Linked DNA regions of Homo sapiens: regions 2 and 3 are each linked to region 1. The links come from fine-mapping of genetic effects on gene expression. A gene starts in region 1. Each other region holds a variant in brackets. All regions are shown on one strand. Distances are between the middles of the regions.

Region 1 (7,048 bases):
TTGTGCTTTGGAAGGGCCTGGGGGTGGAATAATATAACTCCCATGATTCCCATGTGTTATGGGACGGACCTGGTGGGAGGTACCCAGTGGGAGGTAATTGAATCATGGGGGCTGTTCTCGTGATAGTAAATAAGTCTCAAGAGATCTGATGGGTTTTTTGTTGTTGTTGTTTTTCAGATGGAGTCTCACTCTGTTGCTGAGGCTGGAGCGCAGGTGCGATCTCAGCTCACTGCAACCTCTGTCTCCTGGGTTCAAGCAATTCTCCTGCCTCAGCCTCCCAAGTAGCTGGGATTACAGGCGCCCACCACCATGCCCAGCTAATTTGTGCATCTTTAGTAGAGATGGGGTTTAACATGTTGGCCAGGCTGGTCTCAAACTCCTGACCTCAGGCGACCTGCCCACCTCTGCCTCCCAAAGTGCTGGGATTACAGGCATGAGCCACTGCACCTGGCCTGACGGTTTTATAAATGGTAATTCCCCTGCACAAGCTCTCTTGCCTTCCACCATGTAGGATGTGCCTTTGTTTCCCCTTCGCCTACTGCCATAATTGCGAGGCCTCCCCAGCCATGCAGAACTGTGAGTCCATTAAACCTCTTTCCTTCATAAATTACCCAGTCTTGGAAGGGGAGAGTAGAAGGAGCTTGGTTTCCAATGTTGCTCCTATACCACCCTGGACTGTTCCATTACTGGAGGAGGAGAAAACCATGAGCTAGAGTAGCCATTTTTCTGAGTCTGTTATGAGTAATCCAACACAACTCCTATATAGAAAATGGAGAGCTGACAAGAAAAGGATGTGCCAGACAAACAGATGGCACAGAGTGCAGCCAAGCTCCCTCCTGCCTCATCAACTCACCCTGCTCACTCCACCTCCATCGGCCCGCCTGTAACTGCTTCTCAAGCCTGAAATGCCCTTTCCTCCCTCTTCAGTCCACTGAAATCCTCCAGCCTTCAAGGCCCAACTCAAGTCCTACCTCCTGCACATCTTCTCCAGGCCACCGGGACCTCTTCCTGTCAGGGTCATTACCTGGGCCTTTATGATGTGCTCTGCCCTCCCCATTTAGCATAGCTTAATAGTGTGGCCTGTGTCGATACAAGCCGTATGTTCTCAATTCAGTTCTAAGTTCCTAGGGTCAGGGACCCGCCGACAGGGAGAAGCAGGGAAGGGCGCTCACTTCAAAGCACTGCCAGGCAGCCCCGAAGGTTCCCTGCAACCTTAGGTTCCCTGCAACATGGTTTTCTGCTTGGTTTACTGGGAAAGCAGCTCCCAGTCCCGTCTACGGGTTCCTTCACCGCACATCCATCTGCCCACCCATCCACTTGGGAAATATTCTCTTACAGCCAGCTCTGTGGCAGACACCCTGGTAAGTGCTGGGGATCCAGAGACAAGAGACAATTCTGCCCCTGCAAACCTCGAAGGACAGTGTGTACAAAGAGGCCACAGTCCTGGAGGCCATGGGACCCCGTGCTCTCACCTGTTCCTTGCCAGCCACCTGAGCTTGGGCTAAGTACTCCCTTCTCCGAGCCTCAGTCTCCAAAGGAATCAACTATGGGTACAGGGCTACAGGATCTCTTCCAGTTCTAACTAACAACGGTTTTAAAACCTCTGTGTGTGTGTGTTGCGGGGGTGGGGGGTGAGGGCAAGATGGAAGAAAGGGAACTAGTACTTATGGAGTACCCGTTATGTGCCAGGCATAAACTCTACTTAAAACAACAACTTTAAGAGGTCAATGGCTTATCTCCATTCTACAATAGAAGAAAGAGCTATGAGATGAACATGCTTAAGAGCACACGGCTAAGCAGCAGCAGAGCGCGTGAGCTCATCCACAGGCACCACCCGTGCTTCCTACGTGCCGGCACTCAGCTAAGTGCTGGGGGCACAATACTGGCGAGGAGCAGCCCCTGCCCTCTGCATCTGTCCTCTCCCCTCAACAAGCAGAACAACTCAGTAAAAAGGGAAGAACAGGAGGAAGTACATGATGTCCTGGAAGCACAGAGATGGAGTCTCCTTCCCACCTAAAGCAGACAGGGCAGGCTTCTCTGAGGATGCAATGGCCAAGTGGAAGCTGGAAGACCAGGAATTACCATTATAAATTGAGGGAACAGGGGCAGAGTTGGGAGAAAAAGGAAGAAGTGCTTGAGCAGGGGGCAGCAAGTGAAAACCACGGACAGAAACACTAAGAAGAGCCAAAGGCAGTTTCATCGATCAGAAGACAGGTTTGGGGCAGGATAAGAAGGCTAGAGAGGGAGGCAGTGGTGAGAAAACAGGGAGCTCCGTGAGCCCCTGGAAGGATGAGCTGGTTTGAACCTAGATCTGAAGGTTCTGCTCTTTTCTTTTCTTTTTTTTGAGACGGAGTCTCACTCTGTCACCCAGGCTGGAGTGCAGTAGCACAATCTCATCTCACTGCAATCTCGGCCTCCCGGGTTCAAGCAATTCTCCTGCCTCAGCTTCCCGAGCAGCTGGGATTACAGGCGCCCACCACCACACCCAGCCAATTTTTGCATTTTTAGTAGAGACGGGGTTTCATCATGTTAGCCAGGCTGGTCTTGAACTCCTGACCTAGTGATCCACCCGCCTCGGCCTCCCAAAGTGCTGGGATTACAGGTGCGAGCCACCGTGCCCAGCCGGTTCTGCTCTGTCCTTAATTCTCCACTGGCTCAGGGGAATAGAACACAGTTCCCAGCCAAAGGTGCCCATCAGCTGCGGCCGGAGAGAATAGGAGCACTCCAGACCCTCTGAATCGGGGTCTCCAGCTCATCCACACGTGTTCTTTACAGTTCTACAGTCCACAGCGATATCTACTTCTGGCTGAGACACGTGAGACTGAAAGAGGGAGCTGCATGGAGTCCGAGCTTGGTGGTTCCGGACTCAGGGAAGTGACACCCTGAGACATATGGGGATAGATCCTAGGGGAGGCGCAGGATGGGCGACAGAGCCAACCCTTCAGAGGAGTATTACCTCACCTGGGTGTCCTGGAGCCACAGAGACTGCAGGCTGGCGGGCTGTAGCTTCTTACTGCTGCCCCCTGTCTTGACCACCTGCTGACCCACAAAGGGGGAGACCAAATGGTGAAATTTCCTCACCAACGGCCCTTCTGGCATCCCTGTGGGCAGAAATGGGCAAAAGAGGCCACCGACTTAGCTCATTTATCTCTAGCATCTTTAACAGGTGCCAAGCATCCTCCATGCCGCCATTTTTGCTGCCAACTAACTTTAAGAGCAAGCATGGCCAAAAAGGGAGTGTGGCTGGGAGGCGGTCAGATCATAGAGAAGAGCAGCTGTGGCAGGGTGTGGGAAACGTAGCAGGAAAGGCAGCCCCTCTTACCTTTCTTCATGCAGCAAACACTTATTAAGCACCAACAGTGTGCTAGGCAGCACATCATGGGCACCATCCACTTTATTCCTGAGCGGCACCTGCCACACCAGGAGCTGGCCTTTGTTACTTTTTGCCTGGACTGTGAACCTCTAACACCTCCTGACTTTCTCTGTCCCCCTGCTCCCGCTCTCAAAAAACAGCCATTCTGACCCACTGCTGCCGACTTATTTCCCACTTTTGAAGGGACCAGATGCCGCCCTCCAGGACCGCCGACCACTAGCGTGGGGGAGGTGTGCATGAAACGACCAACACGCAGACAGAGCTCAGAATCATAAGTGAGACCCCCAGCCACGTAGGTAAGCCCGGCATAGCTACAGACAGTTATCTCTGATCCCCGAGAAACAGCTGTGGTTCTGTTCTAATCACCACGCAGGGCTCCCAGGGCCACCTCTACTCTCCCTGCCCCCAAATCATCCCAGTCCACTGACAGCCGCCTACATGAGGCAGTCTGAGTGGTGTACACCCGGGCTGTTCGGGCAGAGGAGACTCCCAGCCTCACCCGGGGCAGCTGCCTAACCACCTGTTCCTGCACCAGCCTCTCTATAAGTTATGATGAAAATCGAAAAGAACTAAGTAGATATCGGGCAGGGGGTAGCTATTATATTTCAGTGATTCTAAAAAACATTTTAGAATACTTTTAAAATCTAAGAAATGGTGACGGCTCACAATCTCGGCATTCTCATATTCGGCAGCAGCACATTCAATAACGCGCATCTTACACTCGCTGGTGCCGATTCGCTGAGATGTACTATTTCCCCTCATCAGGCTTTCCAGACACTCCCCAGGGAATCCTGACAAAACCGCCAGGCTGGAAGGAGACGTGCCAAACGCTGCTGACCTTAACCAGTTGGATGCCTGATCCTCTTCTACGGGGAAGCTTCTGGAAAAGCCTTCATCTGAAATGCACCAAGTCCTGAAAATCTCCGGACACGTGGGCATGTTTCGTTTAGGGATTTTTATGGAGATGGACAGGTGGGAAGCAAGCCGCCTCTGCAACAGCCTTGAAAGATGAGACGCGGAAGGGACTTCGAAGAGTCGCTGAAGATGCCGCGCCCACCCTCCGGCCCTCCCTGCCCGGGGGCTACCGAGGAGCTCGAGGCTGGCGCTGCGCCAGCCAGGGAAGAGGAGGGGTTGTCTCCGCCGTTCTCTTCCGAGTGCCCGAGGTGGGGGGTCTAAGACCACTGCTTTCCCAACTCTGCCTCGGGGTGCGGGGAGAGGGGCGCAGACGCGGGTCTGAGGGTCAGTGGGGGCCTCCAGGCGTGGGCAGCACCTCCGCAGGCGGCTGAGACGGAGGAGGGCCCGGGGCCCGCCCTCCCTTCCTGTCCCCTCCCGACTTCTCCGCCAGGCCGCAGATCTACCGGAGGGCGGGCGGCTGCACTCACCGGCTCCGGGTGGGTGGCACGTCGGCCCGACCCAGCACCGCTACGCAGCCCGCACAGCCGCTCCAGCTGGGGGCGGAGATTTCCCGGCTCGGCGGCCCATGCGGCCTCCGTCCCCTTAGGGGACGCCCCTGTAGGTGGAGGCTGCGGGGCTCCTCCCCCAAGTGGGCGTGGACTCCGGCCTGGAGGGGGTGGCGGGGTGCGCGCAGGCGCAGGGCTCATTCCCTGGAAAGTGGGTCTAGGTCGAGGCTGCTCTTTTGTGGGTGGGCGAGGGGTTCCATCCCGGGGGTCGCTGGAGGCAGGGCTGCATTAGAGGGTCGCGAGTGAAAGCAGGGATGGAAGAAGGGTGCAGGCTGGGACTAACATTGGAGAGACGCTCTTGGAAACTTTTTTTTTTTGCGGGGGGAGATAGTCTCGCTGTGTCACCCAGGCTGGAGTGCAGTGGCGCGATCTCGGCTCACTGCAACCTCCGCCTCCTGGGCTTAAGCCATTCTCCTGCCTCAGCCTCCCGAGTAGCTGGGATTACTGGCGCCCGGCTAATTTTTGTATTTTTAGTAGAGACCGGGTTTCACCATGTTGGCCAGGCTGGTCTTGAACTCCTGATCTCAGGTGAGCCGCCCTCCTCGGCCTCCCAAAGTGGTGGGATTACAGGCGTGAGCCACCGCACCCGGCCCTTTTGGAACATTTCTTGTCTCAAGGAGACAGTTATAGGGAAAAGTCAATGGGTGTGTGAATGGGACAGCCTGGGTGTTCCCACAATGGCAAGCCTTTCTGTGGGTTCTGCTTGGCCTCCGAGCCTAATGAAGTCGGGTGCAAAGGAAACAGGTGTTCAAGACTCGTGAAATGTTGAACGGGTGGGATTTTTTTGCTTTCTATTATTTGAATTTTATTACTTGAATTTTTACTATAAGCAAATTTTGCTTAAAGTATTTGTGTATTAAATTTTTTATTTCATAGAATAAAAGAGATAAAACAATAGGCTGTTTAAAGATACATATGTTTTCTTGTCTTTAGTTCTCGAAGGAGGATGGGGAGCCAGCACTTTCCAGGAAGTTGGGAGGAAAGTCTGGGGAACTCCCCAGCAGGTGTTCAGGAAATAGGCTGGGGTGAAGTCACCATGGACCCTAGCTGAGGGGTCCCTGGGGAAGGACTTGGTCAGCACAGGGAAACAAGCCCAGCCCACCGTCAGAGACATGGTTGTGTCCTACTGATTGAGAGGGAGGTTACAAGTGGCCTTCCCACAGTGGTCACCTACTGAACAGGCTAGGGCAGGAGGTGAGGAGAGGGAGGCCTGGGGAGGCCTAGGGTATAGGGTCCTCATCTAGAAAGGCATCTGGAGGCAGAGGGGATGAGGTTGGAGGGCATGGGGTTTGCAGGAGGCATCCCTTGAAGAGCCTCTGGTCCCCCTCTTTCTATGTCCGGCCTTTTCTGGAGAATAACGACCCCCCCACCCCCAGGATGCCCCTGCTATAGGATCAGGCTCACCACAATGGTAGCTTCTGGGCCCCCTAGTTTCTCTTTCTGTAGAGTGGCTGAGCCGGGAGGGAAGCCGTAGCCACAGTCCTCGCCTTACCTGGTGGAATGAATGCCTGGTGCCTAAAGGGGTTCTTCTGAGGCTAAGGGGCTATGCAATTGAAAATCTCATGGTTCACAGCTTGGCTCTGTCATTGATTGTTATTGTTTATTGAGCGCGTACTATGTGCAAAACACTGTTGTGAGCTCTTTGCATATATTGCTTCATTATTAGTTGTGGGGATACAAGCAAGTCACAGTATCTCTGACTTCATTCATTAAATGGGATATCTATTAAATGGTATTATAGAAATATCACAAAGCCACGCTTCTCAAACTTCAATGTACCTATGAATCCCCTGGGAACCTTGTTTAAATGCAGATTCTAAGGTCTATACCAGGGCCCAAGATGTTGCCTTTCCAGCAAGCTGCTGGGTGACGCTGATGCTGTGGTCTAGGGGCCACATTTTTGTTTTGTTTTGTTTTCCGTGACATAGTTTCACTCTTGTTGCCCAGGCTGGAGTGCAACCCAGGCACGATCCCAGCTAACTGCAACCTCTGCCTCCTGGGTTCAAGGGATTCTCCCGCCTCAGCCTCCCAAGTACCTGGGATTACAGGCACGCACAAGCATGCCCAGCTAATTTTTGTATTTTTAGTAGAGACAGGGTTTCTCCATGTTGGCCAGGCTGGTCTCGAACTCCTAACCTAGGTGATCCTCCCTCCTTGGCCTCCCAAAGTGCTGGGATTACAGGTTTGAGCCACCGCGCCCGGCCCTAGGGGCTAC
Region 2 (7,128 bases), 670 kb after region 1:
TGGAAGTCATAAATTCTATTCTTTTTTAAAAATGAGGCCAAGTGGATTGGCTCACACTTGTAATCCCAGCACTTTGGGAGGTCGAAGTGGGTAGATTGCTTGAGCCCAAGAATTTCGAGACCAGCCTGGGCAACGTGGCAAGACCCCGTCTCTACAAAAAATACGGAAAATTAGCTCGGCATGATGGCTTATGCCTGTAGTCCCAGCTACTTGGGAGGCTGAAGTGGAAGGATCGCCTGAGTCTGGGGAGGTCGAGACTGCAGTGAGCTGAGATTGTGCTACTGCACTCCACCCTGGGCGACAGAGTTAGACCCTGCCTCAAAACAAAACAAAATGAAAAGAAAAAAAATGAGCCCTACTTAAACTGGCTGCACCCCCTCTCCCTCCCAGCGCCCAACCCGCTAGGGTGCCCTACTCCCCCGTGCCTCAGGGCCCTTGCATTTGCTGCTCGCTTTGTCTAGGATGCTCCTCCCCATGTGCTTATGGCTCCATCTCTGCTAAATTGTCTCCTCCGCAGAGAGGGCTCTGCCCAGCCTGTCTAGAGTGGCACCTCTGCCATGGTCTCCCTTAACTTCCTCATCACCTCCATCATGACCTCACATTATAGTTTTGTCTCCTCCGCTAAATATATGCTCAGGGAGGGCAGGGGCTTTGTTTTGTTGGTGGCTGTTTTTTCAAGACCTAGAACAATGCGTGAGACACATTAGAAATTCAATACCTATATAATATTTGAGCGAGTGAATGAGTAAATCCTTCATTGCCCTTGCCTAGGGAGTTGCAAGGAAACTTGGAGATTTTAAAGAATGTGGATTTAGAAGTAAAGAAAGTAAAGGAGTTATGAAAAAAATCCAGCGACTGTAAGAGAGGAGCTGATCTCAGAGCTCGCTCTCCAGGCAGGGCTGCCCTGCCCAGCAGTGCCATTCCTGCCTCCAGCCCCTTCTCTCCCAGAATTTTCACTTGAAGCCAGAGCCTAAAATTCCCCCAGTTGGAGGTTGACTTGTGCTAATGATAAGCATCATCTTTTAAAAATGTTTTAGTAGATTCAGCCATTTAACAGGTATTTATTGGGCAGCAGCAATGGTGTGGCTATTGTGTTAGAGGCCAGGGTGACAAAAGTCAGCTGGACAGCCTTGCCAAGCTTCCAGATTTTCGATGTGACTTTGGTTGGACGATTGCCCTCCTGCTGTACCCAGCTAAGAGAAGAGATCTGAAGAAAGGAGATGTGGTTCAGTGGAGCGGGAGCTGTAATAGGGTGCCTGCCTCTTCCCAGGGAGGTGGCAGCTGCTGCTTTTTGGACAGAGGAGGGCGAAAATGGACAGCGTGCCTACCTGGTGGGGCGTTGAGGGTGCCCAGGGGCTAGGGAAGGGGGAAGAAGCTCATTATTCTCCTAGACTATACCCATAAAGAAAATTCTTATTAATACCCCTTTCTATGTTACACCTACATGAGCTCAATTCAGAACCTAATAATCATTTTTTTTTCCATGGGGGAATGTTCCAGAAGTTTCCAAGATGCAAAGTCTATTTAAAACCAACTTTTGAAACAGAACAGAATTTGTATTTCTCCCTCCTAGCCCCACTTAAGATTCAAAAGAAAGTAAAGCTTTTTATTCGTCCAAGAATGTGAATAGACTAATAGTTAAGGGAACAAGATTTCTAAGAGGTTCTTATCACTTGTGCAAGCAATAAATAAATTATTCAAAAATAAACTTTCCACATACTATAAAAGAGGTACCTTGAACCTTTCTGTAAGGGATATTTAATTGGAAACAGGAACATAATTCAAACATGCATGACCACATAGTCATCCTAGCCTATGGAGAAAGCTTTTCGGCATAGTTCTGATGAGACAAGAGTTCCTGTCCCAGTTGTGAAATTACCAAGATACAGTTCCAAATTGTGCTTTCTGACACCTCGTATTCCGTGAGTGAGAAGTACACACAGCATTAGTAGCGTCAGGAAAAACTCGAGACTGCTAAAAATAGGACCTCAAGTTCACCGAGTCCACTGGGTCCTCTTGCTCACGTACCAGCTCTTAGAAATAATGCTACCAGGATTGACAGGCCTCCAGCTCAGTCCTCAAACTTTGTGTGTGTGTGCGCGCGCGCCTGTGTGTCGTGCATGTGTGTGTGCATGCGTGTGTGTGTGTTGTGCGTGTGTGAGTGCGTGTGTGTGTGTGAGAGAGTCACCTGGGGATCTAGTTCAATTGCAGATTCCAATTCGGTATTTCTGGAGTGGGTCGTGGGATTCTGCCTTCCTAACAAGCCGGAAGTCGAAGCCAGTGCTGCTGGTCTGTAAACTGCAGAGCCTAGCAAGGCTCTAGCTTGCCAACAACTTTCACAACAGTGTATGCTGGGGGAGCCCCCCTGCAAAATTGCACCGGTTCCCAGAAATCACCAGTCTCACCAGTTGATATTACGTATTTGATGGGCATGTGATTATTTTTGACTTCCACGTGAATTCTCATCTTGCCTTAGATGTTACTAACACTATAGCAAATAGCTTTAAAAAAAAAAACTGTAGAATTTACGATGTATTTAGTAATACTTTACATTTGTATAATTTTTTTTTTTTTTTTTTTTTGAGATGGAGTCTAGCTCTTGTCCCCCAGGCTGGAGTGCGGTGGCGTGATCTTGGCTCACTGCAGCCTCCGCCTCCTGGGTTCAAGCGATTCTGCTGCCTCAGCCTCCCAAGTAGCTGGGACCACAGGTGTGCACCACCACGCCCGGCTAATTTTGTATTTTTAGTAGAGATGGGGTTTCACCATGTTGACCAGGCTAGTCTTGAACTCCTGACCTCGGTTGATACGCCCACCCCGGCCTCCCAAAGTGCTGGGATTACAGGTGTGAGACACCGCACCCAGCCTGTATAATTTTTTTAACCAATATTTATTGCCTTTTTTTTTTTAAAAAAAAAAAGAAAATATTGCCCTGTGTGTTCAGCAGTGCTGGTATTATCTACTTTTACACATAAGAAAATGGGTTCAAAGTGGCATATTGCTCAAGTTTATGCTGGAACCCAAGTTTTCTAACTTCTCGTGGAATGTTTGCATTGTACCAACTCTGGCTGCAGTATTGCATCCTGAATGTAGAAGTGGTGAGTGGGAGGGTGTGACGAAAATGACATTTCTGGAAACCCAATGGGGAAAATACACAAATACTTTTATTATCACTTTGTGTCTCTTGAGGGCTTATGAGTGGGACCAAGTGGGCTAAGGAGACAAAGTCTATATGAGAGTTCTTAGCCTTGCCATGTCAGATGGCAAGTGTCCTGTTGCTGATGACAAACTTACTTGACTATCTCTGAGGAAATCAGATTTAACTTGACTCTAGGCAACCTTCCATCTTCTGGATGGAACTGAAACTTGAGAACTCAGTGGCATTGATTGATGGAGCACACCGTTCTCATCAGATGGTACAAAGGATGTGCAAATCATATGCAAGTGGGCGAAATCTCTCAGAATCTGCCATCCTGAAACCAAATGTCTTCATTCCAGCTAGATTTTCATTTGGTGTTTGGGTGACATTCAGTGAGGTCTTGAGTATGCATATTCTTCATATGGTATTTGTTGAAAAACAGCTAAAAACTGCAATACAAAGATAAGAAGACACCAACATGGAAGTCAGTTGTAGACTTTGTCGGCTGGAGCCCAAGGACCCAGCTGTTGGCAGGAGGCCTGCCTGTCCTGGGTTGATGGGATGTGGGGCAAAGTGGACCTCATGGGGGCCTTTGACTCTCATGGTTACTTTTTCCAGGAAAAGGCTGCTTGACTAACATCGGTCCATCTTCCTTTTCCAAGCATTTGCCACTGAGGAGTGCAATGGTAGCATGGAAAGCTTTGATCCGTCTGATACCTTATTCAGTTCAGATACACCAATGCCTTCGTTGTGCAGTATTCTAATGGTGTTTTGTTAAAAACATAATACATGTTCACTGCAAAAAATTAGAAATTAAAGGAAACTGTAAAATTATTTTTATTATTAAAGTTTTGTAACCTACTCTTCCGTGTAAAACTATTTGAATGTTCCACCAAATTTTGAGATAAGATTTAAAA[GT/T]ATTTGTTGACAAGTTGGCATTCCATCAGATGGATGCATGCCAGCTTATCCAGGCATCTGTTACTGATGAACTTTTAGCCTGTTTCTTATTATGTAATAGGTTATGCTGCAAGGAAGTATCCTTGTACTGAATCTTTGTATACATCTCTGCTTATTTCCTTAGGGTAAATACTGAGAAGTGGAATCACCAATTCAAAAGATATTTTAAAAATATCTGTTGGATGAATTATTAACTTTTGTCACTGGTACATATATTTTCCCTCATTTATTCTTTAGCTTTGTTGATAGCATTTTTGACATTCAGAAAAGTTTACTTTTATCTAGTCAAATTTGTCAAGTTTTTATTTTATGCTTTCTTCTGCTCTTGTGGTTAAAAATGTCTTCCCAATCCAAAAATAAAATGACAATTAAAGTTAGTTTTAATCATAGACTTAATTGGAAAACAGTGGAATTACTAATTGGCAGCAAGTGTTTTGAGGAACATACAACCATGAATTAAATGTGGTCTAGTCTTAACCAGATATATGCATCAGAATCACCCGTTTGAGCTTTTAAATGTTACCAGTGCCTGGGTCATATCCCAGATCCACTGAATCAGAAAATGTTTTTGAAAAAGACCTTCCATAAGCCCACAAACTTACAAAGGAGGAGAGCCAAGTTGCACATGATATATACATATATATTTTGGCTTGAGTTACTCATTAGATTTATTGGCATGGCGGGTGCGTTTTGTCACAGTCAGTACATCTGTTCACTAGGAGAATCAGGCTGTCATTCTAGCTTCCAGAAGAAAGGAGATTCAGAACAGTGTGTGCTGGGGGAGCCCCTGCAAAATTGCACTGGTGCCTAAAAGCACCAGTCTCACAAGTCAGTGTTACCTATTTGACTGGCATGTGATCATTTCTGACTTCCATGCTGATTCTCATGCTTGTCTTAGGTGTTACTAACACTACAGCAAGTAGCTTCTTAAAAAGAAAAAACTTAGAAGATACAATATATTTAAGAATACCTTACATTCATATAATTCTTAAAACCAAGATTCATTGCTGTTTGATATATAGCAGAATCTCATTTGAGATGGAGGGTTGACCTTGCAGATAATATTTGCAGTTTGGGGAAAGAAAGTCAACCAAAAATGTCCACTTACGTATTTGCACAAACTTGAACGCTACTCATGAGTTAATATTGAAAATACATCCCTGTTTCTCTAGCCTGGAGCTGCAGGCTTTCTCGTTAAAGATTTTATAAGGAAATTTGCCTTTGTATCAGCCTACTTTTTTTCTTTCCAACTTTTACTTTAAGTTCAGAGGTACATGTGCAGGATGTGCAGGTTTGTTACATAGGTTAGCATGTGCCGTGGTGGTTTGCTTCACAGAGCATCCCATCACCCAGGTATTAAGCTCAGCACCCACTAGCTGCTCTTCCTGATGCTCTCCCTCCTTCAGCCTATTTTTTAGTGGCATTCTGTGTTTTAAAGAAGCAGCAGTCAGTCTGCAGGAGAGGAGAGGGAAGGTGCAGGCAGGCCTGGGCTTTGGGTAAGTAACTTGGGAATCTTGGAGCCTCAGAAATGATGATGCTGATGATGACATTGACAATGCTGACGTTGATGCCACCCCAGAGGTCTGTGAGGATGATAGGTGTGGTCATCTGCCTAGTGTCTGGCTGCTAGTAACCACTCCATCGATGTCGGTCCCACCAGCCCCCAGTCTGTGCACTGCAGTGGATGATTTGAAGTGGGGTATTTGGGAGACAGAGGGTTCCCAGGAGAAGTCCCTTTCTGTTTCTGAGGTCCTCTGATCCATTTGAGAGGGAAATTACAAATGCCCCCAAATGAAAAGTAGATAATGGCCGGGTGTAGTGGCTCTGGCCTGTACTCCCAGCACTTTGGGAGGTTGAAGGGGGACGATCACTTGAGGCCAGGGGTTTCAGACCAGTCTGGTCAACATAGTGAAATCCCTTATCTACCAAAAATACAAAACATTAGCTGGGCATGGTGGTGCACACCTGTAATCGCTGGTACTCAGGAGGCTGCAGCAGGAGAATCGCTTGAACCCCGGAGACAGAGGTTGCAGTGAGCCGAGATACATACATATATATGTATATATCATGTGCAACTTGGCTCTGCTCCTTTGTAAGTTTGTGGGCTTATGGAAAGTCTTTTTAAAAAACGTTTTCTGATTCAGTGGATCTAGGATATGACCACGGCACTCCAGCCTGGGCGACACAGCAAGACTCTGTCAAAAAAAAAAAAAGGCCGGGCGCGGTGGCTCACGCCTGTAATCCCAGCACTTTGGGAGGCCGAGGCGGGTGGATCATGAGGTCAGGAGATCGAGACCATCCGGGCTAACACGGTGAAACCCCCATCTCTACTAAAAATACAAAAAATTAGTCTGGCGTGGTGGCGGACACCTGTAGTCCCAGCTACTTGGGAGGCTGAGGCAGGAGAATGGCGTGAACCCGGGAGGCAGAACTTGCAGTGAGCCGAGATCACGCCACTGCACTCCAGCCTGTGCGACAGAGCGAGACTCCATCTCAAAAAAACAAACAAAAAAAATTACATAATGTAAAGACCCTGAAGTATAAAGGGTAAATTTTGAATTATAGAGAGTACATTTATTTCTTATAAGAAATGAAAAAAGGGAAAGATAGGCGTGACTTGAAGTAGTTATTCACTAGTTTTTATATCCTTTTCCAATATTTAAGTATAAAATACTTAAACTAAATTTGAAGGCATCTTAGAGAATTTCAAGAAGAAGAAAAGGACCATGTTGCCAACATCTGGCTATTATAACTAAGAGACTAAGGATGTGGCCGGGCACTAAGTGCTGCTGGCACAAGACGCCACCCACAGTGGAGTGCGGGGAGCAGGGAAGCACCAGAACTGCTCGCAGAAAAGTTTTTCTTGCATAGCCATCTTCGTGCTAAGGGCAGTGGGTGAGGCTTTGACTTGAGATAAAAGCTGGGCTAGAAAGCTGGGGAAGATCTGGGCGTGGTGGCTCACTCCTGAAATCTCAGCACTTTGGGAGGCCGAGGTGGGCGGATCACCCGAGGTCAGGAGTTCGACACTAGCCTGG
Region 3 (5,000 bases), 29 kb before region 1:
GATTGGCCAGGGCCGCTCACACTAGGAAGACCCCGGCCAATCAGTCGCGGAAGGAGACTGGCGTGATAACACTCTAGAAGCTCATTGGAGGCCGAGAAAGAGGCCGACGAGCGGGATTGGTGCCCTGATGGAGCCGGGCCTTTGTTTTCTTCCGCTTACCCCGGCTGGGAGCGCGAACGCTGTGGGGACTGGAGGTGAGGCGGTGGGGCTTAGGATGCGCAGGAGCCCAACGGTGGTCCGCAGTCGGGAGAGCAGTGCGGGGCTGCTTCCTCCCCACTTGGTCAATAAGTCGCCCACGTGTCCGGCCTCGGTGGCTCCTGCCAGCCGGGTGAGCTCTGCAGCCGCTCTCTGTAGAGCCTAAAACCGTGAAAAGGCCGGGCCAGCGCCAAGCTGGGCGTCTTTACTGTAACACACCCGAGCACAGCCCAGCTCGCCTGCCCGCCACCGCCATCCAGCCCCAGGGAGCCCCACACACTCCTGGAGCTTCAGCTGCCCCCTCTCTAGTGTTTACTTGAGATCCAGCTTAGTCCTAGAAAAAGGAGCTGAAGCCTTAGAGAGCCTGTAACAGGAATGTGGAAACTTCTCTCATCCTAGATCTCTCCAGCCCTAGAAACTACTGGCTACCCGTCCAGGCGTGGTGGCTCACGCCTGTAATCGCAACACTTTGGGAGGCCAAGGCGGGTGGATCACGAGGTCAAGAGATCGAGACCATCCTGGCCAACATGGTGAAACCCGTCTCTACTAAAAATACAAAAAAGCCGAGTGTGGTGGTGGGCGCCTGTAGTCCCAACTACTCCGGAGGCTGAGGCAGGAGAATCACTTGAACCCGGGAAGCGGAGTTTGCAGTGAGCCAAGATGACACCGCTGCACTCCAGCCAGGCCAACAGAGCAAGACTACGTCTCCAAAAAAAAAAAAAAACCTACTGGCTACCTAAGCCATCCTGCAGTCTGTTTTAACACAGCAACCAGTAATCCTTTTAAAACCTGTCAGGTCTAGCCGAGCGCGGTGGCTCATGCCTGTAATCCCAGCACTTTGGGAGGCCAAGGCGGGCGGATCACCTGAGGTCTGGAGTTCAAGACCAGCCTGGCCAACATGCTGAAACTGCGTCTCTACTAAAAATACAAAAATTAGCCAGGCATGGTGGCAGGCGCCTATAATCCCAGCTACCTGGGAGGCTGAGGCAGGAGAATCGCTTGAACACAGGAGGCAGAGGTTGCAGTGAGCTGAGATCGCGCTATTGCACTCCAGCCTGGGGGACAAGAGCGAGACTTCATCTCAAAAACAAACAGGAAACCTGTCAGGTACGTTCACTGCCCAAAGCTGTTCAGTGTCTCTCCAACAAAAGCCAAAGCACCTATAGGGATCCTGAGAGGCTGCAGCCTTCCACCCAGATTACCTCTCTGGCCTCCATCTCTTATGCTTTTGCTTTCTCTGGCCCTAGGACTTTTTGTCTAGCTGTTCACTATTCCTGCACTATCCCCCAGATACTGGCTTGACTAACTCCTGTGCCCCTCGAGTCTGCTCACACCTCATCTAGACCCACCTGTTTGCCCTCTCTCACATTTCCACCACTGCTAATCCCAGTGGGGGTCTACTTGCCTATATTTACCATATTCTAATACATCATTTACTTATGTATTAGATTACAGAGTGTTTCCCCTACTACTGTAAACTAAAAATCCTAAGTCCCTACCACTGGACAGCCCTCCCACTCCCCACCTCGGCCAAGGGAACCCCAGAAAAATCTTAAAAACTTAGTTTCCAGCCATGACGGTATAAAAAGTAAAGTAGAGGTTCCTCTTCAAAGACTTTCCTCCCCATTTAATTAGGAATAAATAGTAACTTCTCTTAGAAGCAAACTTTATTCAAAGACCTGTGCTAACATTCTTAAATATCTGCTAGCTATGATAAAGAAATCAATGTACTTCATGTTCTTAGCTCTCACAATTTAGCCTAAATATTTGCCCTGGCATGCTTATAGTGGTCCAAGAAAGCATTAGGTCATAGCCTGTTCCTCTTCCTTATTTGAAGGTGTTTCAACCTTTGTCACCATTCCACAAGTTACTTCCTCCTTCCTTTGTTCTCCTCTACCTTTGCCTCTTTTAAAAACTTCTAAGTTGCTAGCCAATCGGGACAAATACAGAACGTGAGGCACCGTTCCAGCCAATGGAAACTAGACACAAGCAGTGGGGTGGACGAGTCAGGTTATAAATGACCCTGTCTCCTTTGTTTGGTATACTCCCATGGCAAAACTGCTGGCGAGTGTACCCTTTCTGCAGGAAGTAAAAATGGCCTGCTTAGTAAATTAATGTTCAAGCGCCTTTTTTTTTTTTTTTTTTTTTTTTTTTTTTTTGAGACAGAATTTCACTCTTGTTGCCAGGCTGGAGTGCAGTGGCACAGTCTCGGTTCACTGCCACCTCTGCCTTCTGGGTTCAAGTGCTTCTCCTGCCTCAGCCTCCCGAGTAGCTGGGATTACAGGCGCCCAACCACCACGCCTGGGTAATTTTTCGATTTTTAGTAGAGACAGGGTTTCACCATGTTGGCCAGACTGGTCTTGAACTCCTGACCTCATGATCCACCC[T/CACCCT]CCTCGGCCTCCCAAAGTGCTAGGATTACAGGCAAGCCACTGCGCCCAGCCTTCGAGTGCTATTTCTTCTTCATTTTTTTTTTTTTTTTAAATGGAGTCTCACTCTGTCGTGAGGCTGGAGTGCAGTGGCGCGATCTTGGTTCACTGCAACCTCTGGCTCCCAGGTTCAAGTGAGTCTCCTGCCTTAGCCTCCCGAGTAGCTGGAACTACAGGCATGTACCACCACGGCCAGCTAATTTTTTTATTTTTAGTTGAGACAGGGTTTCACCATGTTGGTTAGGATGGTCTCAATCTCTTGACCTCGTGATCCGCCCGCCTCAGCCTCCCCAGGTACTGGGATTACAGGCGTGAGCCACGGCTCCCAGCCTACAAGTGCTATTTCTTTCCAGCACCAGGGAAAAAGCATTTCAAATAACGGGACAGGAGATCAGATAGCCCTCATTGTACCCCCTTCCTTTTGGAGTTCATACACAACTGGCTGGCATTAACATTAAAACAGAGATCATAAGACTAACGGAACAGACTCTGTGGCAATAAGATACCCAATTATAAACAGGACCTAAGGCCATGCAGGCAATGGTGAAGTCAGGCACCCCTACACTTGAAGAATCAACTAAGCTCTAACTGCCACAGGGCTCTTCTTTTTCTCCAGCAGCTAAACGCTGGCCTTGAGATAAGCAATAGTAAAACACCTGCAGCTCCACCAGACAGTGACTAATTGAACCCCTGTTCCACCAGCCATAACTACAGCTTTGACTGGTCAAGAGATTGATCTCAGTAACTTTCTCCTGATAAGACCGCCGACCGTGGACTGGTCTGGCCAGTTTACAGAAACTGTACACTCAAGGCGCCTTCCTGTCCTAAAAAGACCTTTTGACCTATAGGGTGTAATTGTAATGCATTCACATGTTGAGTCTCTATCCCAAAGTGAATATGGGTCATATATTACATACATGTTTGTTCAATGTGTCAGGTCCGCCATCATAAATATTCGTAGCTCCTCTTGTAATCTGTTAAATATGTACGTTTAGCCAACCCAGTCAGCATAAAGCTCCTACCTCAAACGCCTTTTCCTTCAAAGTGCCCGTCTGTGGTCTAAGCTGGAAGCATGCTGTAACCCTTTAGAAGAAATAAAGGCTCTTCTCCCTTTCTAAATTGATAAATCATATTTTTTAAGTCAACACTAGAAATCTAAGCTCAGTGACGACACACCTTTGTTTTGCTCACTAATGTCCCCTCAACCATCTGGAATAGTGCCCAGCACATACTGGCTCAATGAATATTTATTGGGTGCTCAATGAGTATTTATTGAATTGAGCTGCGTATAGGACACGATGGTGCCTAAACAATGCAAAGTTAGTTAACGTGCCCATTCTTTAAATCTCTCTTCCATTAAATCTGCTTCTCCTGTGGATAGCGTTAACAGCCTCTCAGTTTTGTAATCACAAAATCCAGGTGTCATTGATAACGCCCTTTCTCTCCTTATATCCACCCCTTCAAAATCATTCATCAAGTCCTGTGGAGTCCAAGAAAACAAATACCTTTCATTTTAATCTCTCCTCTCTGCTCCATCTTGGTTTAAGCCACATCTTCTTTCCCAAACCATGTTGAAGTTGACTTCCCCTGTCCTTTCCCATATGGCAGGTAGAGTTATTCGTCTAAAACACACACTGGGCTGGGTGCAGTGGCTCACACCTGTAATCCCAGCACTTGGGAAGACCAATGCAGGCGGATCACTTGAGGTCAGGACTTTGAGACCAGCCTGGCTAACATGGTGAAACCCCGTCTCTACTAAAAATACCAAAATTAGCTGAGCGTGGTTGTGGGTGCCTGTAATCCCAGTTACTCGGGAGGCTGAGGCTGGAGAATCGCTTGAACCCACGAGCCGAGATCACCACACCACACTGCAGCCTGGGCAACAAAGTGAGACTCCGTCTCAAAAAAATAAAAAATAAAAACACACACTTGATTATAATCCTTCCATTTTAAATTCCTCCAATGAAATGTCTTCGAATCAATGGATTGATTTAAAGGAAATCAAGCCTTCTGGCATAGAATAAAAACGTCCTTGCCATTTGGCATCTACATCCTTTGTTGGGATTTCAGCCTCCTGTCCACCCATTCTTGTACTACTTTCACACCCTGATCCAGTCCTAGCAGCACTTATTGTCCCCCGAACAGGCTACAGTACTTCACATCCGGCCTTGGCCCAAGCAATTCACCTGCCTGGAATAGGCTTCCTGCTCCTTGCCTAGCCACCTGCCACGCCTCCATTACAGCTCAGGTGGAATCTGCTTCAGGAATCCTTTTCTGGTGTTTCCTGGCCTCTCCTTTATCTGTTCCCCTCCCCCACCGTTTTTTTTGTTTGTTTCTTTTTTTTTTTTTTTTTTTTTTGAGTGTGTGTGAGAGACAGACAGG

What was found. PIP is the estimated chance that this variant, and not a neighbour inherited with it, causes the effect.
Region 2: its variant is fine-mapped to the expression of NEIL2 in testis (GTEx, PIP above 0.99).
Region 3: its variant is fine-mapped to the expression of NEIL2 in fibroblasts (GTEx, PIP above 0.99).

What each region holds. Positions count from the first base shown.
Region 1 is chr8:11,767,499-11,774,546 of GRCh38, reverse strand. It overlaps NEIL2 (nei like DNA glycosylase 2), which reads right to left and starts at 4,837. Exons shown (of 5, transcript NM_145043.4): 1 at 4,212-4,837; 2 at 2,962-3,101. The coding sequence starts at 3,099. It overlaps LOC124901888 (a long non-coding RNA gene), which reads left to right and starts at 3,097. Exons shown (of 2, transcript XR_007060824.1): 1 at 3,097-3,669; 2 at 4,139-5,745. RefSeq lists silencers at 4,447-4,576, 4,617-5,026 and an enhancer at 4,187-4,687.
Region 2 is chr8:11,093,262-11,100,389 of GRCh38, reverse strand. The region is part of intron 1 of XKR6 (XK related 6); the gene reads left to right. Among named protein-coding and RNA genes, the nearest start is that of MIR598, 62 kb to the right of the region's middle. The variant GT/T (reference allele first, on the strand shown) is at 4,054.
Region 3 is chr8:11,797,615-11,802,614 of GRCh38, reverse strand. It overlaps LOC105379243 (a long non-coding RNA gene), which reads left to right and starts at 1,260. Exons shown (of 3, transcript XR_948962.4): 1 at 1,260-1,302. It also overlaps a transcript of FDFT1 not described here. RefSeq lists silencers at 1-75, 2,253-2,312 and enhancers at 146-305, 343-1,084, 1,085-1,827, 1,957-2,600. The variant T/CACCCT (reference allele first, on the strand shown) is at 2,583.